Linked DNA regions of Homo sapiens. The protein of the gene in region 2 purifies or fractionates together with the protein of the main gene of each other region. This does not show direct contact. Each region holds a gene or a part of one and is shown on either strand. Other genes may lie near its edges.

Evidence for each region.
Region 1: the proteins of TEX14 (region 2) and LTF purify together in Homo sapiens (affinity purification with mass spectrometry; one large-scale study listed by BioGRID and IntAct). This does not show direct contact.
Region 3: the proteins of TEX14 (region 2) and SERPINB5 purify together in Homo sapiens (affinity purification with mass spectrometry; one large-scale study listed by BioGRID and IntAct). This does not show direct contact.

The regions. Positions count from the first base shown.
Region 1 is NC_000003.12:46,451,406-46,454,905, forward strand, and holds part of LTF (lactotransferrin isoform 1 preproprotein), read right to left. Parts: intron 2,956-3,500; coding exon 2,900-2,955; intron 1-2,899. UniProt on the Homo sapiens protein: Transferrins are iron binding transport proteins which can bind two Fe(3+) ions in association with the binding of an anion, usually bicarbonate. Lactoferricin binds to the bacterial surface and is crucial for the bactericidal functions.
Region 2 is NC_000017.11:58,558,333-58,563,934, forward strand, and holds part of TEX14 (inactive serine/threonine-protein kinase TEX14), read right to left. Parts: intron 3,281-5,602; coding exon 3,188-3,280; intron 1,231-3,187; coding exon 1,121-1,230; intron 1-1,120.
Region 3 is NC_000018.10:63,500,958-63,503,271, reverse strand, and holds part of SERPINB5 (serpin B5), read right to left. Parts: intron 1-2,314. UniProt on the Homo sapiens protein: Tumor suppressor. It blocks the growth, invasion, and metastatic properties of mammary tumors.

The DNA.
Region 1 (3,500 bases), on a different chromosome or scaffold from region 2:
CCAGTGTATTCCATTAACAAAAGAATGGCTGAACATCAAAAAAACTAAAGTAATCTGCATTTAATGGCAGAAAACCATGAGATCGTCTTCATCTTAATAGATGCAGAACGATTGTTTATGTGTTCAACATCTATTTGTGTGTGGTTTTTTTTTCAGCCTCAGAAAAATAGTAATAGATAGAATCGGTAAAGTTTTTTTGTTTGTTTTGAGACGGAGTCTCACTCTGTTGCCCAGCCTGGAATGCAGTGGTGCGATCTCAGCTCACTGCATCCTCCATCTCCTGGAGTCAAGAGATTCTCTTGCCTCAGCCTCCCAAGTAGCTGGGACCACAAGCGCACGCCACCAGGCCCAGCTAATTTTTGTATTTTTAATAGAGATGGGGTTTCACCATGTTGGCCAGGCTGGTCTCGAACTCCTGACCTCATGTGATCCACCCGCCTCAGTCTCCCAAAGTGCTGGGATTACAGGGGTGAGACACCACGCCTGGCCATAAGTTATTGGCTTGATAAATGCCATTAATCTACAGCAAAAACCTTACTAAAAGAAGAAAATGTAGACATTCACCGCAAAATCAGGAACAAGGCAAGGATGCCCACTGTTACAATGCCAGCACAATTCTAGATATCCAGATCACACAATTTACAAAAGAAATGTGAGATATAAACACTGGAAGGAAAAAGACACACTCTTATTTAAAAAGATGATATCGTCATCTACAAAAAACCAATGAAACCAACAGAAACTAATAAAACTACTCAGAGGAGTAACAAGTTATAAGAGCAACCTACAAAAATCAGATGTTATCCTCATTAACAATAACCAAATAGAAACCAATATGGACTATAAGATGTTACAATAGCAACTAAAACCATTAAGTAGCTAATAATTAGCCTCCCACAAAGACACATCAGACCCACAAAGGAAAAATTTTAGTTCTATCAAAGAAACTAAAAAGAGGTGTGATCAAATGGGGGAGATTTAGCATCACCATGGACTGGACAACTTAATGTTATAAATATGCTGATTTTTCATGGAACAATTTAAATTCAGTACAATTCGAATCAAAATTAAAGTATGATTTTTTCCAGAAATTCAACAAAATAATTCTGAAGTTTTAGCTGAGTATATTTGAAAAGGAATAATAAAGTGAGAGGGGAGAGGGAGCTCTCTCTCATTCTCTCTCTCTTCCTCTCACTGGCTCTCTCTCTTTCTCTCCACCAGATAGTAAGACCCATTGGTAAGCCACAGTAACAAAAGCAGAAAAAATGCAAATACACCAATGAAATAAAATAGCTCAGAAACTGGTCCACTTGGATATATACAAACTTGGTGTAGAATTGGCTTCACATATGGCAGAAAAAATATACTTTTTTTATTGTAAGGTAAATTGCCTCACTGTAAAGGGGATAAAATGCTAAAGCCAAATCTATATCTGACTTTCTAGGTAGAGCACATATAAATAGATGAGGAAGGGGATCTTCAAATCTTATTTTAGGAAATAATTATGATTTGGGTGTGAAGAAGGGCATCTTTGAAATATCTCAAAACTACAAACCAACAAGGTGAGGCTTGTGGATTTGACCTTATCAATATCAAGGATTTTTGATCAACAGAGACTACCGTTGTCAGATTTTTGACTGAGAAGAGGTTTTACTAAAGTTTAAAATCAGCAATAGTTTGATACCTAGATAGAAGGAACTTCTGTCCTTGAATCAAAATCATGCAGAAACAAGGTGTGAAACTCAATTTAAAAAGTAGTCAAATGTCACAAAATAAGAAAGGGAAGCCCAAACGGCTAGCAAATATGTTGAAATGATCAAACTCACCAGCTGTCAGAGAAATGAAAATTAAAAATAAAACGAACTATCTATTGCATTACAACCATCATTCGGACAAAAAGTATGAAAGTCAAAAATACTTCTAACTGAAGTTGTGGGGAAATTAGAACACTTGCAGAGTGTCATTCCAGACAGCAGCTTGGTGATCCTGGGTGCATGTGGGGTCTGTCTCTGGTGGCCCTGGGTGCATGTGGAGGTCTGTTTCTGGTGGCCTCTGATGAATGCGGGGTCTGTCTCTGATGGTCCTAGGTGAATGTGGGTGTTGTCTCTTTCTCTGGTGGTCCTGGGTGGATGTGGGGTGTGTCTCTGATGGTCCTGAGTGAATGTGGGTGTCTGTCACTTTCTCTAGTGGCCCTGGGTGGAATATAGTAGCCCTGTCTCTATTGGTCTTGCATGAAATGTAGTGAGCTTATGTCCACTAGTCCTGGGTGCAGTGTGTTTAGCCTCTACATACTCATCAACTGCTTTATTATAAGTCCAGGAGGGACGCTGTCCAGCACGTAAGTAAGGAACACAGGTGAAGGTATCAGTCGTGTGGCTGCATGTGGTAGAGGAAAAGAGAGCACAACCTCTGTCCATCACTATGGTGACAGAGAAGTAAAAGGTGGATGTATTCCACGGAACACTCCTCAACTGTTAGGACCCCTGAGCTAGACATGTATACAACAATACCGATAAACCTCTAAAACAAAATGCTGAGCAGAAAACCCAAGTAGCAGGATTTCTAATGCTCACTAAAACCTCTATGAACCCAGAAACCGGAAACACAAACCAGCACAATCTGTTCTGCATGAGCACATGTGTCTTGGAGGACTGGAGGACGCATTGCCAAGCACCTAGGCATGGGTGTCTATGAGGGGAAGAGAAAGGCAGTAGGCACAGGAGGTTTGAAGAAAACTGATCATTTAAAATATGAAAGATCATAAAATCAGAGCTGTGCCCTGTAGGAATCTTGAAAATGGTCTGCCATGAACTTAGGAATCTAATTAGCTCAAAGGTCAGAGTCATGATCAAGTAAGATAAAAGGGGTCAGTACCCACGGCTCATTACCCTGCTCTTACCAAACACTGTGCTCTCTCTGATAAAAGCCACGTCTCCAGCCCCGTCTCTCAGACACCTGTGAAAAGAGAAACCATCAGGGGTAAGCACAGGCAGCCCTCCCCAGCCCCTCCCTGTGGAACAGTAGCCCTGGCACTCAGCATCTATGGGTTTCTACTCCCTGCAGGGCAGGGCTCTGAAGCTTTGGGGCATCCCAGCTGGGAAGGTAGGGGCCCCCTCCAGGTAGATACTGAAGAATGACTCAGGTGCTAGCCAGAGGCCCCCATCTTCTGCTTTGAGGGCTAAGAGGACAAAACTTTTTTCTATATAAAGGAGAGTTTTGAAGCCTCTACCCAAGAGGGTAAAGCCTTAGCATCACTGTTCATGTGGCTGTTTTCCTCAGGACTGAGTGTGCAGGTGTGCCCTGGCCAGTGGGGAAGTGTGGAGGCCTCCCTCTGCAAAAATACGCTAGTGCCAGCAGACAGAATGGGAAAAGGGGGAGCTCAGCCTCCGCGTGGGGGCAGAGAGGATGGGGGCGAATCAGGCATTGCTCACTGTCCTTCAGCCACGGGGAGAGGCCCAGGTGGGCAGAAGGACATCAGCCTGGACACTGCAGCGGTCCTG
Region 2 (5,602 bases):
AGGTCAGTTACTAGACCTTAATGAGAGCTGGAATTGGGAAGAATGGACTGCCTACAGAAGCCGCACTTGTGGAGAGACACCACTTCTACCAGGCACAAGGTGCTGAAGTAAGCAGTGAGGCAAAGTAATACCCCAAATTCTCTCTAGCCCCACTAATCTTCTGCTGGGGCCTGTCATTGGCAAACAGGAAGCCCAGGAGATGCAGTCCACTAGGGTCAGCATTCTGGGGCACAAAGCAGGGCAGAGATGGGGAGAATGAGAAGGAAATCAGGAAGAGGTGAAAGGAATACCAGATGATCTGAAAGAGTTAAAGTCTCTTACTTTCCTGAGTAGGAAGAACTTAAATATGGGAGAGCGTCATTGTAAAGGGCATATCAGAAGCCTTCAAAATCTATCAAAATAGTTTTAAAATTAAGGTTAATTTATAATTTTCACATTACTTGTAGACTCCACTTAAATTCCATAAAATATGATTTATTACTGGATTTTGAAGCATCTATGTGAGCTAAATTTAAAACTCTTTGGAAGACGTTGGACAATTAGAAGCAAAACATCGGCCGGGTACAGTGGCTCACACCTGTAATCCCAGCACTTTGGGAGGCCGAGGCAGGCAGATCACCTGAGGTCAAGAGATCGAGACCATCCTGGCCAACCTGGTGAAACCCCGTCTCTACTAAAAATACAAAAATTAGCTGGGCATGGTGGCATCCACCTGTAATCTCAGCTACTCAGGAGGCTGAGGCAGGGGAATCACTTGAACCCAGGAGGCAGAGGTTGCGATGAGCCGAGATCGTGCCACTGCACTCCAGCCTGGGCAACAAGAGTGAAACTGTCTAAAAAAAAAAGAAGCAGCAAAACGTCTCCCCAGACAACGTGCAAGATAATGATGATGAGACTGGGCAAAAGCTTGCTTTGGAAATAGAATTGGATGTTATTACTGTTTTTGTGATAAAGCTATGATTGGCAATTAACAGAAAACCTGAGCTGAACTGCAGAGAAAAATAAATTATCAAAGGTAGGAGGATTATGTATAGCATCTGGGAAACATTTCTAAATAACTTTGAAGCACATCAAAGCCCAAGGACTACAGACTACATTATAAACATACATTAATTCATACCTTCTTCAGAAGTCCCTAGAACACCCTCTGATTTCCTTCTTTCTGGTGTAATGCTATCTTCCCTTTTTCTTTTCTCTTCACCAACTTTTTGATCTTTGATATTTGTCTCCCTGTAACAACAATTATTTGGGGAATCAAAACGTATACACAACAGCCAAGAAAACAGGACTGTACTCAAAACAAAAAACAAACAACAACAACAACAACAACAAAACCATATAATAGCTAGCACTAACAAGAGTGTTCTCTATGCACCAGGCATTGGTTTAAGTGCTATAATTTAACTCATTTAATTCCCATAACTATATAAGGTAGTTACCACTGCCATCCCCATTAAGCAATGAGGAAACCGAGGCACAGAGAAGTTAAATTACACACCTAATAATTCCTAGAGCTAGACTCTGACCTTAGACTCAGTCTGCCTTAGACTCTGCTTTCAACCACTATGCTATACTGCTCCAAAGGAAAAAAAAGGCATTTTACTTAAGTTTTGATTGGTGTCCCTTTCAAAACCATCATTTATTTTATCATCTTATCTTCATTTCCCGAAACTCTCTCCTAAGTGAAATATGTAAATAATTTAAGTACCTCAAAATTTAAGACCATGTTTGTCAATCTATTAAGCAGAAACCATCCCCCCGACCCAACTGGAAACTCCTTATAGGCGGCAGAGCCATCTTATCCCTCTTTGTGGTACCTCTAGCCCCTAGCACAGTGCTTTGGACATTGTCAGTGCTCGGTGGATGCTGGTTGAACCAAAATAACATTGTTTAGGGATTCTTCTGTTTTCATTTGGTGGATAGTCAAAACAAAATACGTAAAATGAGAGAGAAAATAAAGCCAGCTAGAGTGAAGAGAGATTTTTTCCCCTCTTAATATTTTCCCACTAATAGAATCACAGGTTCAAGAGTTGGAGGAGGCCTTTGGGTTATATTCCGCCCCCGTTCAAATGCCCAGGACAGGGAATCATCCAGCCACTGCCTGAGCAGCAGTAACCATTACTAAAATAAGTGTAAAGGCAGGCAGCTATTTCCCTTTATCAGATAGCTGTGGCTATTAGGTTTGTGCTTTATTGAATAAAAATCTGTTACTCTGCAATTTCTAGTCACTAATTAGTCTTCTAGGGCAGACAAGTAAGCTGACTCTCTTCACTTTGCAATATTTCAGGTATTTGAGGGCAGCTATCAAATTCTCCATTCCATCTGCCTTTCTCAGGCTGAGCCTCTCAGCTCCTTCAGCTGTTCTCATATGACATGGTTTCCAGACCTCTGACTGTTCTGTAGCCACACTCTTGTGTTTGTTAATATCCCTTTTAAAATGTGATACCCAGAATGGAGCCCCACATGTGTCCTAGGACTCCTCTGAACAGCACATTACCGTCATCTGGACAGTACATTTTTATATATCCAGCATCAATGCTGCATTGACCTTTTCAGCACTTCATCAAACAGGCCTCACAGAGTCATTGCCCATGCCTTCCTCAGGAAGAATTTCTTGACTTCTCATCATGTCTCAAGATGCATGGCTCATTACTGGGCATACAAAAATAAGACATACTTCTTGCCCTCAGTAAAATTATAGTGAGCAGAAGCTTCTGATGAAAACTTCTCCAGTTAGACCAGGTCTCACACATTCTGTAATTTTGGATCTTTGACCTTTATCTTTTACAGAATCTAACATTTCCACCTGTCAAGATGATTTTGAATCCTCAGTCTATCACTCATCACATCAGCATTCATTCCTAGATTTGTGTTATCTAAAAATTTGATAAGCATACCTTTTCTGATTTAATTCACATGACTGATGAAAATGTCAAAGGTAGCAGGGCCAAGATACAGCAAACTTAGAAGCCTCTGTCTATAATGATATGAATCTGCTAATCAATATCTTGAGTACTGTGGGTGGTCAGAGGAAGAGGGGCAAATATGAGTGCAGACAGGTGGAGTCAGGGCTGGCTTATCTAAATCAATGTAATGCCATCATCAGGCATTCATTCTCCAAGAAGTCTAAAACCTAGCCCCACTTCCTGAAAAAGAAGAAAAGGATTCCCCTTTGGGGAACAATAACCTTTCAGAGCCCTTGGGAAGGTCTTGTAGCTCCACGCTCTCCTCAGGTGGCTGCAGCCATCTTTCCAGGTCCTCATCCAGAGTAGAGTGAGCTCTGTTTAAGGACAAGTGAAGAGAATGGAGACAACAGTCATTTCCCATCCCCCTTGACAAAGATGCATAACACTTTAGAGTAGAAAGGGACCTTAAAACCTGTGCTTTCACTATATGTATGAAAAAACAAGAGCTCAGTGAGATTGTGTCTGGAGTCATAGAGGTCACTTAGATCTGACTGAAATATGCACTGGTCGGGTGTGGTGGCTCACATCTGTAATCCCAGCACTTTGGGAGGCCAAGGTGGGTGGATCACCTGAGGTTAGGAGTTTGAGACCACCCTGGCCAACACAGTCCAACCCCATCTCTACTACAAATACAAAAATCAGCCGGCGTGGTCGCGTGCGCCTGTAATCCCAGCCACCCGGGAGGCTGAGGCAGGAGAATGGCTTGAGCCTAGGAGGCGGCAGCTGCAGTGAGCCGAGATCACGCGACTGCACTCTAGCCTGGGTGACAGAGCAAGACTCTGTCTCAAAAAAAAAGAAGAAAGAAAGAAAGAAGAAATATGCACCAAAATAGTCCTTTAATCCCTTGACAAAAAGCCTTAGCACCTATTAAGATCACTGCTTCCCCAAGTCTGATGGTAGACTCTGTCTCAATTCTAGGTCACTGAGTTAGTTTTCTACCTGAGGCTAGAACTATACATGCTTTCCTACATGTTTTTCCAAGAAAAGGCTAGAAGATGCAGGGTAGAGTATTTTAAGAATGCCTGAAAGTCCTGCTCATCTGAAAAAATGTCTTCCACTCTGGCTTGGTGCCTAGATTGATCATTCACAGCACTGAGATGACTGAGCATCTGTGGGGCATCTATCTGTGGCCAGCACTGCTGGCCCTTTTGGAAGAGGAAGAGACAACAATAATAATAGCTAACTTTTGATCACGTAAAAAGAGCTTAATTTTCTTTTTTTTTTTTGAGACAGTCTCGCTCTGTCGCCCAGGCTGGAGTGCAGCGGCACCATCTCAGCTCACTGCAACCTCTGCCTCCCAGGTTCAAGCGATTCTCCTGCCTCAACCTCCTGAGTAGCTGGGACTACAGGTGTGTGCCACCATGCCTGGCTAATTTTTTTATATATAATTTTAGTAGAGACGGGGTTTTGCCATGTTGGCCAGGCTGGTTTCAAACTCCTGGCTTCAAGTGATCCACCCACCTTGGCCTCCCAAAGTACTGGGATTATAGGTGTGAGCCACTGCGCCTGGCCCCTGTAATGTCAGCACTTTGGGAGTCCCAGTTGGGTGGATCACTTGAGCTCAGGAGTTCAAGGCCAGTCTGGGCAACATGGCAAAACCCCATCTCTACAAAAAATACAAAAATTATCCAGGCATGTTGGCATGAGCCTATAGACCCAACTACTTGGCAGCTGAGGCAGGAGGATCACTTGAGCCCAGGAGATCAAGGCTGCAGTGAGTGGTGTTCATGCCCTATTGCACTCCAGCCTGGGCAACAATGTGAGACTCTGTCTCAAAAAAAAAAAAAATTGCACTAAAATATTACTTATTTTGACTACTGAGTTTTTTTGGTGCTCCCTTCAATTTTGTATCCAAGGAGTCTATCTCCTGAGCTCACCTTAACCTAGTCCTGGCCCCGAATAATGATAGTTCAAGAGAAGTCAAGAGGCAGAGGAGGTGAGCTGAAGTAGTTTACCCTACAACACAGGCAAAAAGAGCTCCAAATCAGGAACAGAGTCAGGTTTCTTGAGGCAACCTTGTACTTTTAGACTGAATTGTCTGGAAGACTGCCCCCATTTTCTCTTCTAAGGCCTTTAACTAAAATGTTTTGAAAGAGACTGAAACTTGTGTTTGCCTAACAAAATGAAGTAAAAATAAACAAACAAAACCCTAAAAACAACTCAAGAGAAAATAACAACAAATAACCCTATCAAAAAATAGGCAAAGAGCCAGGCATGGTGGCTTGCACCTGTAGTCCCAGCTACTTGGGAGGATGGGGCAGGAAGATCACTTGAGCCTAGGACTTCAAGTTCAGCCTGGGCAACATAAAGCCCATCTCTAATTTATATATATATATATATATATATATATATATATATATAGAGAGAGAGAGAGAGAGAGAGAGAGAGAGAGAGAGAGAGAGAGCGCAAGATCATACATATGTATGTATATAGAGAGAGATCATACATATATATGTATACATATATATAGATCATACATATATGTATACATATATATGTATACACACACACAGACACACACACACACACACACACACAGACGGCAAAGAACTCAGACATTTCTCCAAAGAAGATATACAAATGGCCAACAAGCACATGAAAAGATGTTCAACATCATTAATCATTAGGGAAGGGAA
Region 3 (2,314 bases), on a different chromosome or scaffold from region 2:
GCTCAATTGAAAACATAAGGTGTTATGATAAGCCCAGCTTCAAAGCAGTCTGGGTGGAACATCAAAGATGGCCCAGAAGTTTTTGGTATGTGACTCAGGAGACCCAGCAGCCACCCAGCTGTGTCCTCCTCCTCCCCAGCCTATAACAGTGTTCCATGTGCACTGAAATTTATGAGGACAGGGTTCTGTTTTTTCATTTTAAGTTAGAGAGTAGTTTTTTGTTTGTTTGTTTGTTTGTTTGGGTTTTTTTTAGACAATCTTGTTCTGTCACCCGGGCTGGAGTGTAATAGTGTGATCGTCGCTCATTGCAACCTCTGCCTCCTGGGTTCAAGCAATTCTCGTGCCTCAGCCTCTCGAGTAGCTGGGATTACAGGCACACTCCACCATGCCCAGCTAAATTTTCTTTTGTATTTGTAGTAGAGACAGGGTTTCATCATGTTGGCCAAGCTGGTCTCAAACTCCTGGCTTCAAGTGATGTGCCAGCCTCAGCCTCCCAAAGTGCTGGGATTAAAGGTGTGAGCCACCGCACCCAACCTTAAGTTAGAGAGTAGATTTATAGAAACAAATGCCTGGATCATGATGTTGCATACACAATAGTGAAATGAATATAAAATTAGAAAGCTTTTTACACATATTTCTTGAATGCTTATTGTAATTTCTCTACGAGGAAATCCAGAATATTCATGTACTAGGAATGGCATCAGATTTAGAAAATTAAATTAAAGCTAAAGTTACTTTTTTTTTTTAATGGGAATTTGAACTAACTCTGAGCCATGCCCTAGGGTCATAGGTAGTGAATGCATCCATTTTAGCTGTTTTAAAAAATGAGAGAGATGCGGCTGGGCGCAGTGGCTCACGCCTGCAATCCCAGCACTTTGGGAAGCCGAGGTGGGTGGATCACGAGGTCAGGAGATCGAGACCATCCTGGCTAACACAGTGAAAGCCCGTCTCTACTAAAAATACAAAAAATTAGCCAAGCGTCGTGGCAGGCACCTGTAGTCCCAGCTACTCGGGAGGCTGAGGAAGGAGAATGGCATGAACCCAGGAGGCGGAGCTTGCAGTGAGCTGAGATCATGCCACTGCACTCCAGCCTGGGGGACAGAGCAAGACTCCATCTCAAAAAAAAAAAAAAAATCATTTCCAAAACTCAAAAGGTCATTTTCTTTAGTTCTATACTTTAAGAAGAAAATAATTGAAAGCCAAAATTGACAAATGGGATCTAATTAAACTAAAGAGCTTCTGCACAGCAAAAGAAACTACCATCAGAGTGAACAGGCAACCTACAGAATGGGAGAAAATTTTTGCAATCTACTCATCTGACAAAGGGCTAATATCCAGAATCTACAAAGAACTCAAACAAATTTACAAGAAAAAATCAAACAACCCCATCAACAAGTGGGCAAAGGATGTGAACAGACACTTCTCAAAAGAAGACATTTATGCAGCCAACAGACACATGAAAAAATGCTCATCATCACTGGCCATCAGAGAAATGCAAATCAAAACCACAATGAGATACCATCTCACACCAGTTAGAATGGCGATCATTAAAAAGTCAGGAAACAAGAGGTGCTGGAAAGGATATGGAGAAATAGGAACACTTTTACACTGTTGGTGGGACCGTAAACAAGTTCAACCACTGTGGAAGTCAGTGTGGCAGTTCCTCAAGGATCTAGAACTAGAAATACCATTTAACCCAGCCATCCCATTAGTGGGTGTATACTCAAAGGATTATAAATCATGCTGCTATAAAGACACATGCACACGTATGCTTATTGGAACACTATTCACAATAGCAAAGACTTGGAACCAACCCAAATGTCCAATAATGATAGACTGGATTAAGAAAACGTGGCCCATATACACCATGGAATACTATGCAGCCATAAAAAATGATGAGTTCGTGTCCTTTGTAGGGACACGGATGAAGCTGGAAACCATCATTATCAGCAAACTATCACAAGGACAACAAACCAAACACTGCATGTTCTCACTCATAGGTGGGAATTGAACCATGAGAACACCTGGAAACAGGAAGGGGAACACCACACACCAGGGCCTGTTGTGGGGTGGGGGGAGGGGGGAGGGATAGCATTGGGAGATATACCTAATATAAATGACAACTTAATGGGTGCAGCACACCAACATGGCACATGTATATACATGTAACAAACCTGCACATTGTGCACATGTACCCTAAAACTTAATGTATAATTAAAAAAAAGAAAAATAAATTATTGAAATAAAAAAAGAAGAAGAAGAAGAAAATAATTGATGTTTATTGGAGGGCGTTTTAAGAACGAAAGGTAAAATC